Linked DNA regions of Homo sapiens: region 1 is linked to region 2. Evidence: fine-mapped expression QTL. A gene starts in region 2. The other region holds a variant in brackets. All regions are shown on one strand. Distances are between the middles of the regions.

Region 1 (9,141 bases), 26 kb after region 2:
GGCCTGGTGACAGCGCACTGCCCTCACTGTGCCCTGCCGGGGGAGGATGGTGGTGTGGAGCAGTGCAGAGCTGGAAGTCTGTCACCCGGGTGCTGTCAGAACAAGCTCAGAGCCAGCGCTGTCAGGTGGCCCCAAGACGCCTCTGAGCCCAGGCACACTCTCTGGAGGGAGGCGCAGGCCCAGCAACCAACTGTGGTGGTCCTGGGGGAAGTGCTGCGAGGCGGCGGGTTCTTAGCCCCTGGGGACCGGCGCAGGTGGTGCCTGGGCCGAGAGTGGGGAGGAGAGAGGGGATCTGTTGCTCTGGGCAGCCCCTCTGTCTCCCAGGCAGGCTCTCTAGGTGCCCACTTGGCATCCTTCCTCCCTCGTCACAGTGGTGATCACAGGGGGCTGGAAACCTTGGTGGCTTCTCAGTTTCCCTGGCACACAAGTAGGCCCCAGCCGCCCCTTCCTCCAGCTTCATCTTGAAAGCTGAGCTTTCTCTCTGAGCTGTCGTTTTCTAGTCCCAAGGCCACTGTCTTTCCTAGGTGTTTTGCCTATTAATTGAGAACTAAGCCTGATACAGCTTCGCAGTTTACTCTGGAATATTTAACTAAGGCATCAGGGCAGGTGACCAGAGGCCTCAGGAGAGTCCCCAGAGGGTCCTGACCTTGGAAGCCAGGCCCCACGGGGGAAACCACACTGGTGCTCCAGCGTCCCGGGGCACCCGAGCAGAGACTGTGCAGAGAGAAGGGTGGGTGAGGACTGAGGCTCAGCGTGGCTGGAGGGGCCAGGCAGACGGTGGAGTTGGGGGCCGTTGGCAGTGCCCTGAGGAGGCCGTCTGCTCCACTGAGGCAAGGCGGGGCTTCCCTGTGAGCCCACATCAGTGTCCTGCACTGTGTGTGCCCTGAGGCTTCCCTCTGCCAGCAGGTGATGGTGATGGCGCCCACACACCAGACATCCTGGGCTCCTGCTTGCAGGGGTCCCTCCTCGTCCTGTGCAAGGAGCAGCACACCTCAGTGTCACCAGAACTTGTGGGGGTGGGGAGCGTTTCCCGTAATCACAACTTTCAGTGGCTTCACAGTTAGAACTTCGAAGCTGGGGTGTCCGTGAGTGCTGCTGTTTTCCGTTTGGGGTCACGATGCAGCCGGACCTAATTTGTGACATGGCTGCATGTCACCTGGCGCTGGCCCTGGAGGGGGACATGGGTGGTGGAGTTGCCCTCGCCTGCTGGGAAGCTCCCTCTGCCTCAGAGAAGGATGTGACCGGCCAGCCTCTCCCTGCGGCCTGGGGTTCTGAGCATGCGCCTGGCCTCCTGGCGGGGCTCTAGTCCTGAGGGTGGAAGGCTCCAGGCTTCTGCCTCTGCTCCATGACCCCCAGAACCCTAAGTTGTGGCTGAAGGTGCCTGCTCTTAGGAAACGGGTGAATTCTGTCCCGTTGCCATCTGGGTGAGGGAGGAAGCTGCTGGTTAGCCTGCAGCGTGACACACGTCCTGTTTTCCGTAACCAAATTGTAATCACTACAAAACCAGCTCCTCCGCAGTGGCCTGGGGAAGGGGCCTGGGCTTGGGAAGGGGTCTGGACCTGGGGAGGGGATGTGGGCCTGGGGAAGGGGTGTGGGCCTGGGAAAGGGTTGCTCCTGGGAAGGGTCTGTGCCTGGGAAGGGGTGTGCGCATGGGAAGGGTCTGCGCCTGGGAAGGGGTGTGGGCTGCCGTGCTTGGCCCTGTTTGTCAGTGCTCCTCCCAGATGTCTGATGCTACTGCATCCAGCCCCACCAGTAGGCACACGCTCTGTGTTCCCGGGTCCCCGTCCCCAGCTCTCAGGGATGCACTGCGGTCTGGTCCAGCCTCCTTTGGGCACTCACCTGTGGGACCCCTGAATTCCTCTCCATCCATTACTGCCCAGCCAGCCAGGCCTCCTACAGGTGTCTCCCCTTAAAAGAAGTTTCCAGTCAGGTTTGGTAGCTCATGCTTGTAATCCCAGGATTTTGGGAAACCAAGGTGGGAGGATCACTTGAGGTCAAGAGTTTGAGACCAGCGTGGGCAACATAGTGAAACTGTCTCTACAAAAACTAAAAAAACAAAACAAGAAAAAACCCCAAAATACAAAAATTAGCTGGGCATGGTGGTGGGCGCCTGTAATCCCAGCTACTTGGGAGACTGAGGCATGAGAATCGCTTGAACCCGGGAGGTGGAGGTTGCAGTGAGCCAAGATCGTGCCATTACACTCCAGCCTGGGCGACAGGAGCGAAACTCTGTCTTGTCTTCAAAAAAACAAACAAAGAAAACAAAAAATAAGAAAACATTAGCTAGGCGTGGTGGCGCATGTCTGTGGTCCCGCCTATTTGGGAGGCTGAGGTGGGAGGATTCCTTGAGTCCGAGAGGTTGAGGCTGCAGTGAGCCGTGATGGTGCCCCTGCGCTTTAGCCTGGGTGACAGAGTGAGACTTCTTTTTTTTTCTTTTTGAGATGGAGTGTCTCTCTTGTTGCCCAGGCTGGAGTGCAATGGCGCAATCTCATCTCACTGCAGCCTCCGCCTCCCGGGTTCAAGCGATTTTCCTGCCTCAGCCTCCCAAGTAGCTGGTATTACAGGCATGTGCCACCATGCCCGGCTAATTTTTGTGTTTTTAGTAGAGACGGGGTTTCGCCATGTTGGCCAGGCTGGTCTCAAACTCCTGACCTCAGGTGATCCACCCGCCTTGGCCTCCGAAGGTGCTGGGATTACAGGCGTGAGCCACCACGCCCGGCCAGACCCTGTCTCTTAAAAAAAGGAAGTTTCACAGCAGCAACAGAAAGTCTCCAGTTAAAAAAAAATTTTTTTTTGACAGAGTCTTGGCTCACTGCAACCTCCATCTCCTGGGTTCAAGCAGTTCTCCTGCCTCAGCCTCCCGAGTAGCTGGGACTACAGGAGCACACCACCATGCCTGGCTAATTTTTTTTTTGTATGTTTTAGTAGAGACGGGGTTTCGCCCTGTTGGCCAGGCTGGTCTTGAACTTCTGACCTCAAGTGACCCACCCACATCGGCCTCCCAAAATGCCGAGATTACTGTCATGAGCCACTGAGCCCGCCCCCAGTTAAGTTGAATGAGCACGTGAATATTAAAGGTTATTGCTTTCTCATGTTGGAAGAATCCTGGTGTGAAATGGACAGTGCTGTGCTGGGTCTTTCAGGACATGGAGGGCCCCTGGCCCGCCTTTCTGTCTGTTCGGCGGTATGGGGTGTTGCTGGCTTTGTCGGAGCTCAGAGGTGCCCCTGCGGCCTCTGGCCCTGCTCTGGCTCTGGTGGAACCGCAGGTCCTCCCTTGCTGTACACAGGGGGGCAGTCTTGGCCAGGCCCCACAAGACCTGGCCCCTTCCACATGTCAGTTCCAGCTAACGGGAACTAGCACATATTTTTTGTTATAGAAAC[A/G]CGCTATGGAAAATACCAAATGTTTTTAGAAGTAGAGGGCATCCTGGCAGTTTCAGCCAGAGGTGGCACTTTCCTCTTTCATCCTCCCTGTGGGTTAGTGTTCTGAGGTTTCACACTGTCCACATGTGTCCTGTGTGTGTGTGCCTGCAAGTGTGCACGCACCAGGGTGTGAGGCAAGCAGAAGCCAGGAGGCGCTTCCAGAGCAGGTGCAGCAGCGTGGCCCCAGGGAGGGTGACTGTGGTGTTGGGGGACAGGGAGAACAACACAGGGACAGGAAACAGAGGTCCTGGGGTGTGAGGAGGGTATGGGAGGCTGGAGGGTGCAAGACAGAGTGATGGAGGAGGGAGGGCAGAGGTGGCAGGTGGAGCGTGGAGCTGCTGACGCATGCAGCTTTGCAGTGTGCTGTGGTGCAAGCTGATGGGTATGGGTCAAGGAGTGAAGAGATTGCGTAAAACACAACCAGAATCGAAATCATCACTGTAATTTAACGTGGCATCTCACTGTGGCCCTGTTCTGTCAGAAGCACGCCTGCAGCCCACTGTACCTAGGCAGGGAAACGTGGCTATAATGGAGGCTGTACGGCGTCCCCTGTTCTTGGAAGGTGGGGCTTCAGGGGCTTTTTATTTATTTGTTTTTGAGATGGAGTTTCGCTCTTGTTGCCCAGGCTGGAGTGCAATGGCGCGATCTCGGCTCACCACAACCTCTGCCTCCCAGGTTCAAGTGATTCTCCCGCTTCAGCCTCCTGAGTAGCTGGGATTACAGGCATGTGCCACCATGCCTGGGTAATTTCATATTTTTAGTAGACACGGGGTTTCTCCTTGTTGGTTAGGCTGGTCTCGAACTCCCAACCTCAGGTGATCCAACCGCATCGGCCTCCCAAAGTGCTGGGGTTATAGGCGTGAGCCACTGCACCCAGCTGGCTTTTTATACTTTGATCATTGTCCTTTTTCTAATGTAGTGTTATATGAGTTATTTATTAAAAGCATTATATACACTAATTAGAATATAGTGAGATTTTTCTTTTTCTAAAGTGAAAGTTGGTGAGGGAGCATGTGCTGGAGACCAGCATGCCAGGGGCTACACAGAATGGTGATCTTAATTCGAACGCTTAGAAAAAACAGGCGGGGCGTGGTGGCTCACGCCTGTAATCCCAGCACTTTGGGAGGCCGAGGTGGGTGGATCACTTGAGGTCGGGAATTCAAGGCCAGCCTGGCCAACGTGGTGAAACCTCATCTCTAGTAAAAATACAAAAATCAGCTGGGCGTGGTGGCACGCACCTGTAGTTCCAGCTACTCAGGAGGCTGAAGCAGGAGAATTGCTTGAATCCGGGAGGCGGAGGTTGCAGTGAGCCGAGATCGCACCACTACACTCCAGCCTGGGCGATAGAGCGAGACTCCGTCTCAAAAAAAAAAAGAATACACACTGCTCACAAAACAAAGAACTCTGAGGGAGGGTCGGAGTTGCAGGCACCTGGAGCTCAGCCTGGGGAGGCCTGGGCCAGATTTCTGCAGAATTTAGAATTGGCTCATCAGTGCTGCTCAAAGCCCCCTTATTCCAGGATGGGTCTCTCCTGAGTCCTGCGTTTCTCCCTGGCCTCTCTTCTGGATTCTCATATCAGCAGGCACCTCACTGTGGCCCTGCCAGGTCCTCTCCAGCCCCCACAAGGAGACACCACTGCGACCTGCTCCAGCTTCTGTTTAGTTTATTATTTGTTCAGACAGGTTCTCACCGTGTTGCTCAGGCTGGAGTGCAGAGGTGCATCACAGCTCACTGCAGCCTCCACCTTCTGGACTCAAACGATCTGCCTGCCTCAGCCACCTGAGTAGCTGGGACCACAGGCATGCCCTACCATACCCCGCTCATTTTTTTTTTGTAGAGATGGGATCTTGCTATGTTGTCCAGGCTGGTCTTGAACTCCTGGGCTCAAGCAGTCTTCCTGCCTCAGCCTCTCAAAGTGCTGTGATTACAGATGTGAGCCACTATGCCTGGCCTGTTCTAGCTTCTTTTTTTTTTTTTTTTTGAGACAGGGTCTTGCTCTGTCACCCAGGCTGGAGTGCAGTGGCACGATCTCAGCTCATTGCAGCCTCGACCTCCCGGGCTCTAGTGATCCTCCAACCTCAGCCTCCTGAGTAGTAGGACCACAAGCAGGTGCCACCACACCCAGCTAATTTTTTTCAGTTTTTTTTTGTAGAAATGGGTCTCCCCCCATCCTGGCTAACACAGTGAAACCCCGTCTCTACTAAAAACACAAAAAATTAGCCGGGCGTGGTTGCAGGCACCTGTAGTCCCAGCTACTCGGGAGGCTGAGGCAGGAGAATGGCATGAACCCAGGAGGCAGAGCTTGCAGTGAGCCAAGATCACGCCACTGCACTCCAGCCTGGGTGACAGAGCGAAACTCTGTTTCAAAAAAAAAAAAAAGAAAGAAAGAAAGAAAGAAATGGGTCTCCCCGTGTTGCCCAGGCTGGTATTGAACTCCTGGGTTGGGCGATCTTCCTGCTCCGGCCTCCCAAAGTGTTGGGACCACAGGTGTGAGCCACCATGCCCGGCCACCACTCCAGCTTCTTTTTTACTTTATTTTATTTTTATTTTTATTTTTATTTTTTTGAGACGGAGTCTTGCTCTGTCACCCAGGCTGGAGTGCAGTGGCACCATCTCTGCTCACTGCAACCTCCACCTCCTGGGTTCAAGCGATTCTCCTGCCTCAGCCTCCTGAGTAGCTGGGATCACAGGCACCCGCCACCACGCCTGGCTAATTTTGTATTTTTAGTAGAGACAGAGTTTCACCATGTTCGCCAAGATGGTCTCGATCTCCTGACCTCGTGATCCACCCACCTCGGCCTCCCAAAGTGCCGGGATTACAAGCGTGAGCCACCGCGCCCGGACCTTCTACAGCTTCTTGAAAGCCACTAGGTTTGTGGCAATTTTTATGGCAGCCACAGAAAACTAGTACATAGATCCCAGTTGTGACAACCTAGGTAGTCTCCAGGCACTGCCCCCGTCCCGGCACCACCTTTGTTGGAGGCCTGTGCTCAGTGCTGGTGCCCTGCTGCTGCTGCCGGCCACCCCTGTGGCCACGTTACCCACCAGGAGGCCGGCTCTGGGCCTCAGCCTGAAGGAGGCCCGGGCTTTGCCTCTGCTGCCACCAGGAAAAGCTGAGTGCCACCTGACCCTGTTCAGCTCTGAGTTTCCGGACGGGCCCAGTAGCTGCCCCTTGCTCTCTTCAAAACTTTTCTTGGCTGCTCTAATTCCTTTTTGCTTCCAACTGAACTTTAGAATCATTTTACTGGAGTCTTTAAAGAGTGTTGTTAGTATTTGTTTGGGATTCAGTTACATTCATTGTGAAGCCAGAGGCCGTGCCTGTTCTGCCTTGTCTGTGCTGGTGGCTGCCCCTGGATGACGCTGAGGTCCCTGCCTCATGGTTTCCCTGGAGGGCCTGGCCCCAGGCTCCAGCGATTGGCTTTCTGCTTCTGCATCCTATCCTTCCAGTGTCCTCCGACAGGCCCTACACACTTGCCTTCCCCCAAGTGGCCAAGGTTGTCTGCGCGTCCCGATTGCAGCAGCCTCCAGTCCTGTGTCTGTGCTTTGTCACAAATGCACTGGCCCCTGTGCCAACCACTGAGGGCCGACGCTGCGGGGCGGGGGGCACTTTCCAGCTCTCCCCATCTTTGGGCATGCCTGGGGCCTCACCTTACTGTTCTCGTTGGAAGATCAGGCCGCAGCGTTTGGGTTGGTGAACCTGGTGAACAATCCACATGTCCACCATGCTCATTGGGAGATCAGGCTGCAGCGATCGGGCTGGTGAACCTGGTGAACAATCCAAATGTCCACCTGATGTTTCCAGAGGTACCAGGGCCAGGTCTTAACCCCGAAGCCCTGCAGGGCAGAATGTGGTGGACGTCGTAGGCATGCTGTCAGTTGGCAGAGCTTCGGAGTAGAGTGTCCAGCAGGTTCAGCTGCAGCCTCCCCATGGGTGGGTGGACTGAGGCGTGGGGGCCTTCTGCAGACTGGCTGGTTGCAGTGCCTTGGGGCACATGGGATGGTACCTGCGTCCCCTGCAGTCCAGCAGGGAGGTGGATGTGTTCACATGTGGTCACCATGCAGGAGTGATATCTGAGTGGGCTGGCCTGGGGCAAGGGGGACGGCCAGCCCATGCTGTGTGTGCACCACTTGCAGAGGTTTGGAGGTACATCTGTGTTCTCGCCCGGCAGCCATTTGACAGCGTCCACTCTGGACTTGCAGTGTGTTAGGGACATGGTTAGAAAATGCAGAAAGTGCCTGTAATCCCAGCCGGGCGTGGTGGCGGGCACCTATAGTCCCAGCTACTTGGAAGGCTGAGGCAGGAGAATGGCGTGAACCCAGGAGGCGGAGCTTGCAGTGAGTGGAGATGGGACCACTGCACTCCAGCCTGGGCAACAGAGGGAGACTCCGTCTCAAAAAAAAAAAGAAAATGCGGAAAGTGCAGTTGGCCCACCCTCAACCCTGCTGGCTGGGCAGAGTGAGAGATGCTTCCCCCACTGGGGTTCCTGGCTCAGTGACGGAGGTGCGGGGGGCCGACCTGCTGCTTCCCCCATGAGTGCTGACCCCCGCTTTGTTCTCACTTTGTGTCTGTGGATGTTAGGAAAGGGTTGTAAATGCAGATCTCCAAGTTTTGGCTGATCTGTCTTTTTTTGTGTTTCCAGGTGCTGGCAAAACCCCGACTCTGGGTGGCGGCTTCCACGTGAATCTGGGGAAGGAGTCGAGAGCGCAGACCCTGCAGAATGGTATTTCCCACCGCGGATGCTGCTGAGCGTGCGGCGGGTCCCAGAGATGGGGATGGTGGTGCTAGGGTGGAGGGCACTGACTCAGCCATGGACCTCATGGCCTGCCACTTCCTCGTCACCCTGCACGCCCAGCCCAGGCTGCTTTCCAGGAGGAATTGTGCCCTGAGTCCCCTCCTGGGTGTCCTGCAGACTCTGCCAGGGCTGTTTGGGGAGAACCCAGTGGATCCCACAGGATCCACAGCCATTGCTTGATGGCCTCAGTGAGATGGAGGCAGAAATAACACATTTATAGCAGTTGGATATTGTAGTGACATTCTCACTGCGTTTTGTCAAAGTGCCAGTTCACCACAAACTGGAGAAATGTCTGCTGGGTTATTTGTCTTATGATTGAGTTGAAAAAGTTCTTTATGTGTTTTAGGTACAAGTCTTTTATCGGATGTGTGATTTTATATATTTTAGGTGCAAGTCGTTTATCGGATGTGTGATTTTATGTGTTTTAGGTACAAGTCTTTTATCGGATGTGTGATTTATAGGACATTTTCAGCCATTTCATGCGTTCTTTTCATTTTCTTTTGTCTTTTTATTTTTCGCTGGTATCCTTTGGAGCATGAAAGTTTTAAATTCTGATAGTATCCAGTTTACCTATTTAGTCTCTTGATGGCTGTGCTTTTGGTATCATAACTAACAAATGTTGCCTAATCCAGTCCAAATCGTGAAGATTTGTGCTTATGATTTTTTGGAGTTTTGCGCCTTCCTCTCTTTCCAGTAGGTTTTGGTCCATATTGAGTCAGCGTTTGCATGTGATGTAAGGTAAGGGCCTGCCTTCACTCCTGCACGTGCAGACCCAGTTTTCTCAGGACCATGTGTTGAAAACACTGTATTTTGCCAGTTGGCATCCTCTTGGTGCCCTTGCTGAAAATCGATTGACCGTAAACCTAAAAGCTCATTTCTGGATCCTCAGTTTGGCTTAGTGACTGCATGACAGTCCTGGTGCCCGTTC
Region 2 (16,468 bases):
TGACTCCAGTGTTGACAGCAGGACAGAGCTGCCAGAGGTTTCCAGGCATCTTGAAAGCAGGGCACAGCCTGCGCGGACAGAGCGGTGTGCACGCACCGTGCAGGCCACGGCGATGGGCCAGGTCCTCCGAATCCCCAAGGCCTCCAGGGCTACGGGCACCGTCCTGCTGCCCCTTGGCCCCAGCTCGAGTGCTGCCCAGCCTACAGGCCACTGGCTGCCCAGGTCAGCTTCCTCAGCCCCTCCCTCAGAGCAGCCCATCTTCCCTGGATCACTGCAGACCACCTCCGAAAGCCCTGTCCCAAGCCCTGCACGACACCTCCCACCCATCTCCACCTGCACACCCTGAGGCAATCTCCACCTCCAGTGTGGTCCACCACTCCAGCAGCACTGCTCTCCCAAATACACACACTTGAAATAGTCCAGCGACTTCCCCACCACTCAAAATGAAACCACACTCCTTGGCATGACATCCTGGTTCCATTACAGGAACGTCCGCCAAGGAGCTACACTGTGCAGGCTCTGGGCAGCACCGAGCAAGGCAGACAGGGTCCCGCCGTGAGAGTCTCGTGCAGGCTGGCAGCGGTCAGTAGGCAACATGCGTCCTGAGGAGACGCCCCTGCACGTGGACAGAGGCAGGGGGAAGGGCTGGAGACAGGCTACTGCCCCAGCCAGCCGCCGCCCACTGACACCACCCAGTGCATCTATGGATGTGGAGGATCCGGCAGGAAGAGCAACACGTCCAATTGTTGCTCCAGAGGTGAGAGAGAGAATAGCGCAGAACCAACAGCAGAAGAAAAAGTGGCTGAGAGCTTCCCGGGACTCATGAAAATCATCGATCCACAAAGTCAGCAAGTCTAGTAACCCCGACTCAGGCAATCACAAGAGAACCCACACCAGGACCCACCATGAGACGACCGTTGGCAACGATGACATGACCACAAAGCCACCCAGACGTCTCCCTCCAGCCTGTCACGGCCGCTGACCTCTTACAGCAAAGCTGGAAGTCAAAGCCAGGGACGCCCTGCCTGGACCTGTGGGAGGAGCACACACCACCCCAGCATCGTACAACCAGCACACGCCCTGCTCAGGGTGAGGGTAAACTAAAACATCTTCAGACAAACAGAAAGAGAAGGTAGTTATCAGCAGATCCTCACTAAAGGAAATCCTAAGAACAAATATTCAACAGAAGAAGGAAAATGATTCCTGACATGCAAGAAGAATGAGCAACAAAGGAAGTGGTGAGTTTTGAAGCTCATCAAATATCACAGTATAAAGCAGTAACAACATCTTGTGGGCTTCACAAGAAAACAATTAAGATACACAGTAACAAAATCATATAAATATAAACATGAAAGGGTTGGATTAGAATAAAGTGGGCTAAGGTCCCTGCATAGTTCAGCAGGAGAGTAAAGATACAATTAACTATGCACATTAAAATGTACAGGGTAGGCTGGGCGTGGTGGCTTATGCCTGTAATCCCAGCACTTTGGGAGGCCGAGGCGGGCAGATCATTTGAGGTCAGGAGTTCGAGACCAGTCTGGCCAACATGGTGAAACCCCGTCTCTACTAAAAATACAAAAAAATGAGCCGGGTGCGGTGGCGCGCACCTGTAGTTCCAGCTACTCGGGAGGCTGAGGCACAAGAATCACTTGACCTGGGAGGTGGAGGTTGCAGTGAGCCAAGATTGCGCCACTGCATTCCACCCTGGGCAACAGAGCAAGACTCCATCTCAAAAGAGAGAGACTCCGTCTCAAAAAATAAAAAATAAAAATAAAAAAAGGCCGGGCACAGAGGCTCAGCCTGTAATCCCAGCACTTTGGGAGGCCAAGGCGGGCGGATCACGAGGTCGAGAGTTCGAGACCAGCCTGGCCAACATGGTGAAACCCCGTCTCTACTAAAAATACAAAAATTAACTGGGCGTGGTGGCAGGCGCCTGTAGTCCCAGCTACTCGGGAGGCTGAGGCAGGAGAATCGCTTGAACCCGGGAGGAGAGGTTGCAGTGAGCCAAGATTGCACGACTGTACTCCAGCCTGGCGACACAGCGAGACTCTGTCTCAAAAAAAAAAAAGTCAGAAAAGGTCAGAGTGAATGAAAATGAAATCTAGATACATGCTGAATAACCAAAGACACATCTAATATGTAAGGATATACAAAGGTTTTTAAAAAGGATAGAAAAATAGCTAACAGGCAAAAATTATCCAAAAGAATGCTTGCATCAAAGTCAATACTAAAGACAAAAAGCATTACTAGATATAAAAGCAGTCATACAATGAGAAAAGTTCAAAATACCTAGAATTACAATTCTAAACATGTATGTACCTAATAACATAGCCTCAAAAATATATTAAGTGACGGGGCGTTAGTGGTTCATGCCTATAATCCCAGCACTTTGGGAGGCTGAGGCAGGTAGACTGCTTGAGCCCAAGAATTCAAGATCAGCCCGAGCAACATGGAAAAACCCAGTCTCTACAAAAAATACAAAATTTAGCCAGGTGTGGTGGTGCACACCTGTAGTCCCAGCTACTCGGGAAGCTGAGGTGGGAGGATCGATTAAGCCTGGGAGTTCAAGGCTACAGTGAGCTGTGATCGTCCCACTACACTCCAGCCTAGGTGACAGAGTGAGATCCTGTCTGGAAAAAAAAAAAGTATCAAACAGAAACTGACAGAACTGTTAGAAAACCCGGACCAATCTATTCTCAGATTATAAGATTTTAACATACATTTCTAGTAGACAAAAAAAGGGAACGGACTTGAAGACCACAGTAAACCAAGCTTGATCTAATAGACAAACACTGCACCATCAACTGCCAAACACACATTCCTTTTAAGTATAAACAGAACGTGCATTAAAATTGACACACTGACCCAGAAAGCAGGTTCAAAAAAAAATGTTTTTGCAGTGGCGCCATCTGGGCTCACTGCAACCTCCGCCTCCCAAGTTCAAGTGATTCTCCTGCTTCAGCCTCCTGAGTAGCTGGAATTACAGGTGCGTGCCACCACGCCTGGCTAATTTTTGTATGTTTAGTAGAGATGGGATTTCACTACGTTGCCCAGGCTGGTCTCGAACTCCTAACCTCCGGTAATCCACCCACCTCAGCCTCCCAAAGTGCTGGGATTACAGGTGTGAACCACCAGGCCCGGCCAGTCAGGTTATTTTATAAGTGAATTATCCCAAACATTCAAGGAAGAAATGATTCCAATTTTACATAAGCTATACCACGATACAGCAAAAGAGGCAGTACTCATTTCATTTCACAAGGAAATCTTAGCGCCAAAATCTGCTAAGGACTACAGAAGAAAGGAAGCACATAGACCCCAGACACACATGCAGAAGTCCTAAACAAGATACTATCATCTAAACCCACCAATGTGGGCAGGTAGGGAGGCTCACACCTGGAGTCCCAGCTCTTTGAGAGGCCAAGGTGAGAGGATCACTTGAGGCCAGGAGTTGGAGACCAGCCTGAGCAACATAGTGAGACCCCATCTCTACAAAAAATTTAAAATTAGCCAGGCCAGTGGCATGCACCTGTAGTCTCAGCTACTCAGGAGGCTGAGGCAGGAGGATTGCTTGAGCCATGGTCACACCACTGCACTCCAGCCTAGGCAAAAGAGCAAGACCCTGTCTCAAAAAATAAATACATAAATAAATATATATCCACCAATTTTTAAAAAGGGTAATACAACATGCTTAAACTAGTATTTTTCCAGGAATAGGTTAATGTTAGAAAATCAATTTACGGCCAGGCATGGTGGCTCACGCCTGTAATCCCAGCACTTTGGGAGGCTGAGGTGGACGGATAACAAGGTCAGGAGATCGAGACCCTCCTGGCCAACACGGTGAAACCCCGTCTCTACTAAAAATACAAAAATTCGCTGGGCGTGGTGGTGCACACCTGTAGTCCCAGCTACTTGGGAGGCTGAGGCAGGGGAATTGCTTGAACCTGGGAGGCAGAGGTTGCAGTGAGCTGAGATCACGCCACTGCACTCCAGCCTGGTAACAGAGCGAGACTCTGTCTCAAAAAGAAAAGAAAAGAAATAAAATCAATTTATGTAATTTACCACAATAGTAATGAAAAGATAAAAATTATATAATCCTCTTAATGAAAGTACTTGATTATATTCAACATCCACTCATAATGATTTCTTTAAAAAGCCTTTGCAAGTCATGAATAGGATGAGACTTTTTAAGTGCATAAAGGCTATCCACAAAAAGTTGCAGCAAACATCGTCCTTAAAGGTAAAACACTGGAAACCTTCCTTAAGGTCAAGACAGAACACGGGTAATCCACGCAACCAACCATATTCAACACTGTACTATGACAACTGGCACAGTCAGGCAAGAGAAAGAAAGAAAAGTATGAGGATTGAAAAGAAACAACTTTGTCTTTTGCAAAAGACAAAACATACATTTTGAAAATACAAAATAATCTATAGATAAGTTACTAGGTTAAAAATAGTAAAATCACTGATTTCTTTGAAAAATCAACTGAATTTCTATATGTTAGCAACAAACATAATAAAAAGCTGACTTTTACTATGACTTCTAAAATACAAGCATCTAGGAATAAATGTAACAAAGGATATGCATGACAGCAGAATCTTGTAAAACTCTCAAAATACATTCAAGACCTAAGTAAATAGCTTGATCATGAATGAGAAGACTCAGTACCACACAAACGTCAATTCTCCCCAACCTGCTCTACAGAGTTAAAGAACTTCCAATTATAAACCAAATGTGGCTTTGTGTGAAACTTAAAAAGATAATTCTGGCTGGGCGTGGTGGCTCACGCCTGTAATCCCAGCACTTTCAGAGGCCAAGGCGGGCGGATCACGAGGTCAAGAGATCGAGACCATCCTGGCCAACATGGTGAAACCCTGTCTCTACTAAAAATACAGAAATTAGCTGGGCGTGGTGGTGCACGCCTGTAGTCCCAACTACTCAGGAGGCTGAGGCAGGAGAATTGCTTGAACCCGGGAAGTGGAGGTTGTAGTGAGCTGAGATCGTGCCACTGCACTCCAGCCTGGGCGACAGAGCTTCTCAAAAAAATAAAATAGGCAGGGCGTGGTGGCTCACGCCTGTAATCCCAACACTTTGGGAGGCTGAGGCGGGCGGATCACGAGGTCAGAAAATTGAGACCATCCTGGCTAACACGGTGAAACCCCATCTCTACTAAAAATATAAAAAAAATTAGCCGGGCGTGGTGGCGGGCGCCTGTAGTCCCAGCTACTCGGGAGGCTGAGGCAGGAGAATGGTGTGAACCCAGGAGGCGGAGCTTGCAGTGAGCCGAGACAGCACCACTGCACTCCAGCCTGGGTGACAGAGCGAGACTCCATCTCAAAATAAAATAAAATAAAATAAAAATAAATAAATAAATAAATAAAATAAAAATACAAAAATTAGCCGGGCATGCTGGCAGGCGCCTGTAGTCCTAGCTACTTGGGAGGCTGAGGCAGGAAAATCGAAACAGGGAGGCGGAGGTTGCAGTGAGCCGAGATTGCACCACTGCACTCCAGCCTGGTGACAGAGTGAGACTCTGTCTCAAAAAAACAAAACAAAACAAAAAAATTAGACAGACATGGTGGTGTACACCTGTAGTCCCAGCTGCTCAGGAAGCTGATGTGGGAGGACTGCTTGAGCCCAGGTTTTAGGGGTTACAATGAGCCATGATCAAGCCACTGCACCCCAGTCTGGGCCACAAAGTGAGGCTCTGTCTCTAAAAACCAAACAGATGGCCAGGCCCAGGGGCTCATACCTGTAATCTCAGCACTTCGGGAGGCCGAGGTGAGAGGATCACTTGAGCCCAGGAGTTCAAGACCAGTCTGGGCAACATAGGGAGACCCTGTCTCTGCAACAACAACAACAAAATACATAAATAAAAACAAATTAATAAACATCAACCGAAAAAACAATCAAGTGGGAAGGGCAAGGTACAAAGCAGCCCAGCCCTTGCTGAAGAGCAGGTGGGGGCGCTCAGGGACATGGGCACCAGGAGGACACTCTGGGAACCCAGGAGGCAGAGGCCACAGACAGGCACTGACGCATACCCCGTGGACCACCTAGGAGCACCGTGTGTAACAGTGCTGAGCCAAAAGCGTCGCAAGGAAACCCGGAGCACAGGCCTCCCCAACAACAGCCCAGCATGCCCAGTTCAAGCTCCCGGGGGCAGACTTCTCCGGCTGCCTCCCAGAAGGAGAACCGAAACGAGACCAGCACCCCAGCCTGGCAAACAGTCAATGTGCACACTCCACCAGGCTGACACGGGGAGTGCACCCAGAGGCTGCTCAGAGAGCAAAGACTCGCTCATAACTGGACGGGGACATCCTCAACACAGCCGAGAAAGGATGACTATCTCTAAAGAAACTGCTGAAACTCAAGCAGAAAAAAAGAGAAAAAAAAACTGGCAAAGGAACAGGAATTTCACTGACAAGGAAGTACAAATGGCCTAAATTAGTAATCAGAGAAATTCAAGTTAAAACCACGATACCACTTCACACCCACCAGACTGGCAAAAATTAAGTCAAATGAGTGTTGGCACAAATGTGGAGCAGTGGGGACTCTCGTCCCTGTCAGTGGGGGCCGGAGCAGGCACAACCACTCTGGAAAACTGCCCAGCAGTAACGCTGAGTGCGTGCACACCCCCACCATAAATCCTGGTAGCTGGCGGTACATGCTTAAGACAGGCCCTGCCCATCCAGAAAGACACACGCAGAAGACTGGCACACGATGTCCACAGCAGCACGGGGCTTGTAATTAACCAAAAAACTGGAAACAAGCCAAGGTCCCTTGACAGAAGCAAAGCCGAGGTACTGTCACGCCAGTGAATAGTACGCAGCAGTGAACACGCCGAAAGGCATCAGCACACACGCAGCCCAGAAGCTTCATGGCTGGGCAAAAGTGAGGAGTACAGAAGAACTCAGGAGGAACAAAGCAAAACTAAGTAGCAGACTGTCCGAGGATGCACGGACAGGCGGCACAAGCACAAAGCAAAGCTAGGGGCAAGCCCGCCTATGAGGGGCCCTGTTCCAGGACAGGTAAGGGCAGGAGCTCATTATGAGGCTGAGCATGTCCTACGAACAAACTGCATCTGCCCACCTGGTCAGCTGCGCCACTCGCCCCTCCGCCCATTAACTCCTCCGCCCATTAACTCCACACCAACAGAACAAATCCTGTCCTCCTGCCTACCCTTCCTCCCAACCCTGTCCAGGCCAGAGCTCGGGACCCCCCCCAGCACTTAGTGCTACCCAGCCCAGGTGCCCCCATCTACCCCCGCCTGTCCTAACCAGGCTTCTCGAAACCCGCCCTACCCATACCCTCCCCACAGACACCAGAGTGGGCTTTCTAGACCCCTGGAGAATAGAGCACAGCTCCACAGGGGGGCTGATAAGGCCCCCGGCCCCTCCTGCCACACGCCCCCACCTCCCTTGGGTTAAAGACTTTGCTGCTCATTCGGAGGGCCCCAGGAAGCTGCTGCAGAGGTTCAGCAAGGGCAGGCTATGTGCTGCAGTGCTGGAGCAGGGGAGCGCCAACAGCCCGCATGAAGGTTCTGGGGCTGTGGGTGAGGCAGTGACTCAGAGGGGCAGACAGGAGAAGGGCTGTGGGGCTGTGGGACCTGACATTGGGGCAATCGCCAAGACCTGGAATGGAGAAGCAGCCAGGCCTGGGGAGATGCTCCTGGCTTTGGCTTTGAGGCCCCAGAGACTTCCCAGAAGAGAGGCAAGCAGGCACATCTGCAGTGCTCGGCCCCAGACCTTGGGCAAATGCTGACCCTTAGGTCTCATATGGACACTGGGTCCTTCGGGAGGCCCCGCCAGGTGCAAGAGTCGTGCCGGGTGGGCATCCTTCCTGTCCACTCAGCAAAACCAAAGCCCCGAGGTCCCAACCCTGCGCTCCAGGAGGGCAAGCCCCACTGTCCAGCGGCTCTGCAACTCCAACACCACGCTCAGAGATGCAGGCTGTGGGAGCCACAGGAAAGCACGGAGAGGCCCACCTGCAGCTGACTAGGGGTGGAACAACTCAATGCCACGTGGGGTCCCCTCCAGGCATACTGGCCACTTCCAGTGCCTGGAAGGTCCGCTCACCCTCCCATCTCCCCAGGGAGAACTCTCACTACCCCCAACCGCCTCCTCTTCTCGCCTGCTGTCTATTCTAGAACCAGAACTTTTCCGGAGAGCGTGTCTCTCTCCTCCTTAGCCTGGGAGCTTCCTGAGCAGGAACTACCAAGTCACGAAGAAATTACAAAAGTTTCAAACTGAGCAGGAGACTCAGGGAAGCTGCAAGTCCAAGGAAGGCTGGGCTATGGCCGGAGGGTAAACCCTGTCCAATCGTTACCGCTGGGCGACCGGGCGCCCCCCTACCAAGTGCAGAACAGCCAGTCTTCCGCAATGGCAAGATCAACTGGGAGGCGCAAATAGCAGTACTGGCTTGGCGACGCCTCTAAATGAGAGACAGCGCCAACCAGGTACCCGCGAGGACGACCCCGCCCCGCAGGACAGGGCATCTCCACCGCGCGCTGGACGGAGGATACAACCGAGTCCTGCGCGCCCCGTGCGCCGGGGGTCGCTCCCAGGCCGAGGTCTGACAGTGTCGCCGAACGCGAAAGGAAGCGTGTGGTACCCGAGAGAGGAAGCACCCTCGTCACCCCGGCCGGCACCGCATTGAGGCAGGTGTGCAGGTGCGGTTGCGGCGAGCCAGGTGAGCGCCGCCCGGGAGCCCCAAGGTCCCGCCGGGTCTGAGCAGCACCGGGTCCTCGGAAGCTGAGCGCGGCCCCCGGTGCTCGGGACCTGGGGGGCTGGGGCCGCGCTTGCCGGAGCTGCGGGGGGGCGGCGGCTGCACGCGTCGAACCGGCGGGCGGGGGCGCGGGGGGCGACCTGGGCTCCGCTGGGGGACCCGGGCCGGGGATGGGGCGCGCAGAGGCCGCGGCCAGGACACCCCCAGCAGGTGCCCGGCGGGAACAAAGCGCGGCGGGCGGCGCGTACCTGGGCACGCAGCTGGGGCTGGAGCCGTCCACCTCCCAGGTGGCGAACAGGTTCATGGGCACGGGCGTGTTGAGCGCGCCGGGCGCGCCGGGGAGGCCGAGGCGGCCTCGCTCGGCCATGGCGCCGGCCCCGCCGCTCCCTCGGCGGCCTGGGGCTGCGGCCGGGCCGCGGACGCGCGGCGGGCGGGCCGGGCGCGCGGAGGGCGGCGGCGCGGTCACATGGCTGCCGGGCGGCGGAGGGGACGGGCCGGGCCCCGGCGTCGGACAGGCCCGCGGGCGGCGACGAGCTGCGGCCGCTCCGCCCCGCCCCGCCCGGCGCCCCGCCCGCGCCCCGCGCGCCCCCGGCCGCCCCGCGCGCGCCCGGCGCCCTCCGACCCGCGCCGGCGCCGCCGATTGGCTGGGCGGGGCGCCAGCTCGCCGCCTCGGGTCCAATCGCCGCCGGCGCAGCGCGCGCCGGAAGTGAGGTGCGCGCGCGCTTCCTCCGGCGGCGCCTCACGGGGCGTCCCCGCCCGCCGGTGCGCGAGAGCGCGCACTCACGCGCCTGCGCACAGACCCCGCCCGGGGCGCCCCGCCCCGCCCCCCGGGAGCCGCGGGCAAGGGCCGGGAGAGTCGTGGGGGTCCACCGGGTCCCGGCCAGCTTCAGGCGCCGCCCCCTAAGGAAAGCTCATCGTCGCCCTGGCGATGCCCACCTCCCCACGCGCGGATTCCCCGGCCTCGACACTTTCCCGCCTCCACCCCGCCATGCCCCGAGTCTCCCCGCCCCCCTGCCCTCGCCGCCCCTTGTCTCCTGCCGACCCCCGCTGGGTTGGCCCGGCTGTGCGGGCCCCGCCCGTCCCCGAGCCCCTCCCTCGCGCCCCCCTGCGTGGGTTCCCCGGGACGCAGGGAGGTGGCAAGGAGGTGGCCGGGCCTGGCGGCGGTCGCGGGGACTCGAAGCCACTCGGGGCGCCAGGCTGCCGAGCTTAGCCTCCAGGGCTCCAGATGACCCCGGGCGCCCTCTTTGCGTCCCAGCATCCTTATTCAGCGCCGCTTTTCAGCGTTGTGCTCAGGACAATGGAGAACAAATGTCTGGGGCCAAGGCTGGCTCCTGGCCCTGGGGTTAACAGTGAACTTGGGGACCCAAGCAAAGAGGAGGCAATGGCTAGAGCCGCTGGGGCCCGACGTGTAGGCTCTGGGGCTCAGGGAGGGTGCTTCCCCCATCTGTTTGGCAGCGGCTGTGGTCCAGCACCAGATGCCAAGCCGAGATTTAGGAAACGGTTTTCTGGCCTCTCTTCTGTTTCCTTGTTTCACAGTTAGTTTACAGTTGCTTTTCTCTTCGCCCTGTGTCTTGTCTACAAGTAGTTTTACTGAAACAAATCCAGCCCGAGCAAATTGACCTGGAGCTGGTTTCTTTCCTGGCCCACGGGGCTTGCCACCCCAGTGCCCCGTCAGCTCCTTCTGCAAAGGCCCTCATGCCGCTGCTTCCTCCGTTGAGAGAGCTCAGCCTCCAGCTGTAACTCCTGTATCTAGAACTGCAAACAGCTGCGACTGCTTAAAGTCAGGGTCCCACTTCGGAGAGAACAAGGGACTCTGTGTTTCCCACGCGCCCCTGGCTCCTCTAAGGTGGTACACTGAGAGCCATGAGGGTCTGTCTGACCTTGGCCAGCTGCTCGGCGGGCAGAGGGCCGGTGGATCTCATACCTTTGAGACAGGGTAGGGGGAGAAGTGACTATGTCCAGAGAGGGGGTAGCCATACCCCAGGAGGACAGGCTGTCTGTGATGGGAGGGCAGGAGACAGGCACCCATTGACCCCAGAACTGAGCGTACGGCGCTGCTGGACCTGGCGAGCGTGCAGTTGCAGTCAGACGGATGGGCCGCCTGACACATGGTGCCTGTGTATGCCAGCGTCTAACCCAGGCAGGGACTACAACTGGGGGTCAAGTGAGGAGATGCGGGGTGACTAAGCCGTGCACAGCAGGGCTTGGCACCAGCTGCCACCATTGAGCGGTGCCCCTCCTCTGTGCCAGGCACCGTTGTGAGCCCTTAAGGGACGTGACAGTTCTGTCCCATCCCAAGTGACAAAAGAGGAGATGGCGGCCTGTGAGGTTATGCAGCTGCCAGGGGTCGGGATATGACCCACACAGTCTGTACCAGAGTGGCCCGAAGAACCCGTATGGTGGGTCTACATCAATGCTTCTGCCAGGCAGGAAAGCAGGGACACGAAACACACCATGTGTCACGCCTGCGACCACGTTTATGTTTGTTTTTAAGGTGGGATGGTGGTGATGGGACTGTGGTCTTCTGTATTTTCCAAGTGCACAGATGTCCCTTGGGTGATCAGAGTAACTTTTTAGCCAGAACTTGTTATTTGCACTGCCCTCCTCTGTCGGAAAATGATGCTGTGCTGGTCCTTCTCTTGAGGGCTGTGGGTCACAGGAGGAGATCCCCTGAAGGCTGGGAGGCATCCCTCCCCATGCTATGACCCTGGCATGGTGTGAGCCCTCACCCCCGTGTTTGGAGCACAGGTGCTTTCTCTGGTAGCGTTTTCTTTAAAGCAGGAACTTGGTTTGAGACAAACCTCTCGGATGACTGGGGTGGCTGGGCACGGTTGGGGAGGAGGTCCAAGAAGAGGATCCTTCAGAGCCCTGGGGTCTCAGGAGGACAACCTGAAAGCTGGTCCTACCACGTGCTGCCCGGGGTCCCCGGAGGTTGTGGGAGTTATTATTATTTAAGAAGTTAAAGCTTCAAGGTTCTGAATGCTTGGCTAGGATTCCATTGGTATTAAAAAGACGAAGCCCCAACCCCCAGTCATGGGACAGGATGGGCCGAGGCCTTTCCTCTGTCCGCCTGGCTTCGCTAGGTCCCTCCACCTAGGGTGAAGGCTCAGGCTTTTCCAGTCGGGCGCCAGGACCATGGGCTGCTTGGAAACGCATTCATCTCCTCAGCCTGGGCTAAGATGACACAGACACACAGCAGGCCCTGCTGAAGTCGGGGAGTGGGGGAGGGGCCTCCTCCAGGGCCAGCACTGGTCAGTTGGCGGCTCCAGCCCACAGCGCCCCTACTCCTTCTCCTGCCAGGAGCTGGGCTGAGGAAGCAGCCCCACGTGGCCAGGTCCCTGCCCAGCCCATGCTATGGCAGAGGGACAGAACTGCCGAACCCCTAGACAGGCCCTGCCGCATCCACTCCCATGGTTGGAGCACATGGCCATGACTGAGGCTGAGGAGGAATGGTCACAAAAAAGGTACAGCAGGGCCCTCCTCCTGGAGGCATTTTCTGGGAAGCCATGTGGGGGATGGCCAAGAGCTCTAAGACCGCTGAGATCGCTGCACCCGCAGCCGCACCTGTGGACAGTTCCCACGGTCACCCTTAGAGCAGCTCAACTGCTGAGAGTGAGGCCTGGAATCAACCCCGGGGTTGTAGAGTAGAACAGGGTTAGGTGAGCCATGATAGAACCTGATAGAATATTCTACAGCTGGCAGAAATAGTGAGTTAAAAGTAGCTAAAAACAGGCCAGTCGCAGGGGCTCACACCTGTAATCCCAGCACTTTGGGAGGCCAAAGCGCACAGATCCCGTGACCTCAGGAGTTCAAGACCAGCTTGGGCAATATGGCAAAGTCCCATCTCTAACAAAAATACAAAAACGTACCTGGGCATGGTGGTGCGCATCTGTGATCCCAGTGACTTGGGAAGCTGAGGTGGGAGAATCACTTGAACCCAGGAGGTGGAGGTTGCAGTGAACCAGGATCACACCACTGCACTCCAGTCTGGGGGACAGAGCCAGGCTCCATCTCAAAAAATAAAAATAAAAAGGCCGGGCACAGTGGCTCATGCCTGTAATCTTAGCACTTTGGGAGGCCGAAGTGGGTGGATCACCTGAGGTCAGGAGTTTGTGACCATCCTGGCCAACATAGTGAAACCCCATCTCTACTAAAAATACAAAAAATTAGTGGGGCATGATGGTGCGCGCCTGTAATCCCAGCTACTCGGGAGGCTGAGGCAGGAGAATCGCTTGAACCCAGCAGGCAGAGGTTCCATTGAGCCAAGATTGTGCCACTGCACTCCAGCCTGGGTGACAAGAGTGAAACTCTGTCTCAAGAAAACAAAAATGTATGTGAAAATGCATGTCCATGTGCAGTATGTATTTACATGTTAGTGATTATACATATAAAACACCTATTTTCAGGTATAGAAAAATATTGATAGGATACAAATTAATCCAAAGTGTTAAGAAAGTATCTCTGTGTGATGGGGATTCCATTGATTTGGTTTCTCCTTTTTGCTTATCTTTATCTCCTATTTTCTCCATGATGAACATGTATTAATTGTGTAGGGAAAATCAAACCACAGCAGGGTGAGCTGCCGCTGGCTGGAGAGCCGGGCGCCATCTGGCTGGGGCTGCGCCCCGTCCTGAAAAAACCAAACGTGCAAAGGGAACCCTCACCCAACGCAACAAACTATTGAGGATGATCTTTGTAAGAATACTGAATGTTTCACTAGGGTAACATTCTTTTTTTTTTTTTTTTTTTTTTGAGACAGAGTCTCGCTCTGTCTGTCGCCCAGGCTGGAGTGCAGTGGTGCCATCTCAGCTCACTGCAAGCTCTGCCTCCCGGGTTCATGCCATTCTCCTGCCTCAGCCTCCTGAGTAGGGGGGACTACAGGCGCCTGCCACCACGCCTGGCTAATTTTTTGTATTTTTATTAGAGACGGGGTTTCACCGTGTTAGCCAGGATGGTCTTGATCTCCTGACCTCATGATCCGCCCGCCTCGACCTCCCAAAGTGCTGGGATTACAGGCGTGAGCCACTGTGCCTGGCTCACTAGGGTAACATTCTTAATATCAAAGGAAATCATACAAGTCCATAAGACCACTAAAAAATTCCCAGTGGAAAATGGTTAGAGAAGCTACAAAAGATTCACAAAAGAATAAGTGAGACAGTTGTCACTACTATCACGAATTGTAAATTATAAAAAGATGCACATGGCTGGGTGCGGTGGCTCATACCTGTAATCCCAGCACTTTGGGAGGCCGAGGCGGGTGGATCTCCAGGTCAGGAGTTCAAAACTAGCCTGACCAATACACTGAAACCCCGTCTCTACTAAAAATACAAAAATTAGTCGGGTGTGGTGGCGGGCGCCTGTAGTCCCAGCTAGTCGGGAGGCTGAGACAGGAGAATTGCTTGAATCCAGGAGGCGGAGCTTGCAGTGAGCCGAGATTGTGCCACTGCACTCCTGCCTGGGCAAGAGAGTGAGACTCCGTCTAAAAAAAAAAAAAAAAAAAAAAAAAAAAGACACACATCACCACCTTCTCCTTAATGCAGGCTAATCTAGACCTAATACAGACCTAAGGTCGTGATGACATCCTCGGTGTCCTGCACGCTGCTCCCCTCCTGGGTTGGGCGCAGGCAGCGCAGCTCCCTCACACAGCACCTGGGGCAGGACCCAGAGCAGCTCTGCAGAGTGGCTTGGCAGCGTCTTGGGAGATTTGCCTGGGCTCATGGGTATCCCATGGCATCCTGCAGGTGACACTGGAAATGTCAACAGGGACACAGGTCCAGGTGTGTGAGATATTTCAAACAGCAACACCTACAGAAAGGAATGTCCAGTCCAGGGGAAATGACAAAACTTGCCCTGGCACATCCACCCCATGGGATGTGGAATAACCAGCAAAACGGAACGCTGCCTCAGTTTTAGCAACATGGGGAAATTCTCAGATATGTGATTGTGTGACAAATCAGGGTGTAAAGTTGAACACAGCATGACCTGGATTCAGGAATAAAACTCTCCCCTCTTGACTGTGGTTATCCTGAGCCCCAAGATTAAGAGGGACCTTGATGCATAAATTTTAACACTTCTTTCTTTCCCACAATAGAATATCATCACAATAAGCCAGGACATAACTTAAATATTAGAAAAGAAAGGAAAACACCCAGGCCCTAATACAGAAATCAGCCAAGGACATTCACAGACATCAGAACAGCAATTACCGCAACACGTGTCAACCAACACTCAACCTCAGTGCTCTTCGTGCAGGATGGATTTCTGGTTTTGTTAGGTTTTGTTTGTCTTTTTCTTTTTTTTTCTTTTGTTTTCTTGACAGGGTCTTGCTCTGTCAACCAGGCTGGAGTGCAGTGGTGCCATCATGGCTCACTGTAGGCCAGATCTCCTGGACTCAAACCATCCTCCTGCCTCAGCCTCTCAAAGTGCTGGGATTACAAGTGTGAACCACTGTGCTGGGTCCCTAAGGGTTTTAAAAAATTATTTATTTATTTAGAGACAAAGTCATGGCTGGGCACAGTGGCTCATGCCTGTAATCCCAGCACTTTGGGGGGCTGAGGCAGGCGGATCATGAAGTCAGGAGTTCCAGACCAGCCTGGCCAACATGGTGAAACCCTGTCTCTACTAAAACTGCAAAACTTAGCTGGGCACAGTGGCTCATACCTGTAATCCCAGCTACTCAGAAGGCTGAGGCAGGAGAATCACTTGAACCCAGGAGGCGGAGGTTGCAGTGAGCCAAGATTGCACCACTGCACTCCAGCCCGGACGACAGAGCAAGACTCCATCTCAAAAAAAAAAAAAAAAAAAGACAGAATCTGCCTCTGTCGTGCCCAGGCTGGAGTACAATGGTGCCATCTCAGCTCACTGCAACTTCTGTCTCCTGGGCTCAGGCAATCCTCCCTCTTCAGCCTCCCGAGTAGCTGGGACCACAGGCATGTACCACCACACCTGGCTAATTTTTGTATTTTTGTTAGAGATGCTGTTTTGCCATATTTCCCAGGCTGGTCTCAAACACCTGGGCTCAATCAATCCTCTCACCTCAGCCTCCCAAAGTGCTGGGATAACAGGTGTGAGCCACTGTGCCCGGCCTAATTGTTTTTTTGGGGGGGACAGAGTCTCACTCTATGGTCCAGGCTGGAGTGCTGTGGTGTGATCATAACTCACTGCAGCCTCAGTCACCTGGGTTCAAGCGATTCTCCTGCCTCAGCCTCCCAAGTAGCTGAACTAGAGGCACGCACCACCACGCACAGCTAATTTTTAAATTTTTTGTAGAGACAGGGATCTCACTTTGTTGCCCAGGCTGGTCTCGAACTCCTGGGCTCAAGCTATCCTCCCACCTCTGCCTCCCAAAGTGCTGGGATGACAGGCGTGAGCCACTGTCCTGGCCTGGCCCTTGACTTCTGTGGTGGAAGGTGGACTGGAGCCTCACCAAGTCTCACTCGAGTTGCGGAGAACAGACAGGAACAGGGACTTGCCTTCTGAGCAGTCTGTCTACCAGACACATGTCCTCCATCATACTCCGCAGTGCTAGGGTGGGCTATTCTTATCCCTGTTATGCAGATGAGGAAGTAGAAACCTAGAGAGATTGAAGCACTTGCCCAAGGCCAGGCAGCAGGTGAGAAGGTGAGAAGGCCATAGAAGCTTGCTTTCTCATTTCCCCTGCTGACTGCTGCATGGGGGGACAGGGCTATTGAGTACCCAGGAGTTATTTTGATCAAATGTGATAAGATGACAGACACAGAG

What was found. PIP is the estimated chance that this variant, and not a neighbour inherited with it, causes the effect. A credible set is the group of variants that fine-mapping cannot tell apart.
Region 1: its variant is the best candidate, but not a certain one, in a credible set for the expression of PACS2 in whole blood (TOPMed, PIP 0.57).

Annotation. Positions count from the first base shown.
Region 1 is chr14:105,285,296-105,294,436 of GRCh38, reverse strand. BRF1 (BRF1 general transcription factor IIIB subunit) reads left to right here. Exons shown (of 18, transcript NM_001519.4): 2 at 8,061-8,141. Among named protein-coding and RNA genes, the nearest start is that of BRF1, 11 kb to the left of the region's middle. RefSeq lists enhancers at 175-304, 945-1,064, 1,215-1,364, 7,616-8,514. The variant A/G (reference allele first, on the strand shown) is at 3,382.
Region 2 is chr14:105,307,546-105,324,013 of GRCh38, reverse strand. PACS2 (phosphofurin acidic cluster sorting protein 2) reads right to left here and starts at 9,266. Exons shown (of 25, transcript NM_001100913.3): 1 at 8,977-9,266. The coding sequence starts at 9,095. It also overlaps a transcript of BRF1 not described here and the pseudogene LOC124903409. RefSeq lists enhancers at 585-1,094, 8,249-8,900 and silencers at 8,645-8,724, 8,955-9,044, 9,185-9,714, 9,815-9,904, 11,745-11,905.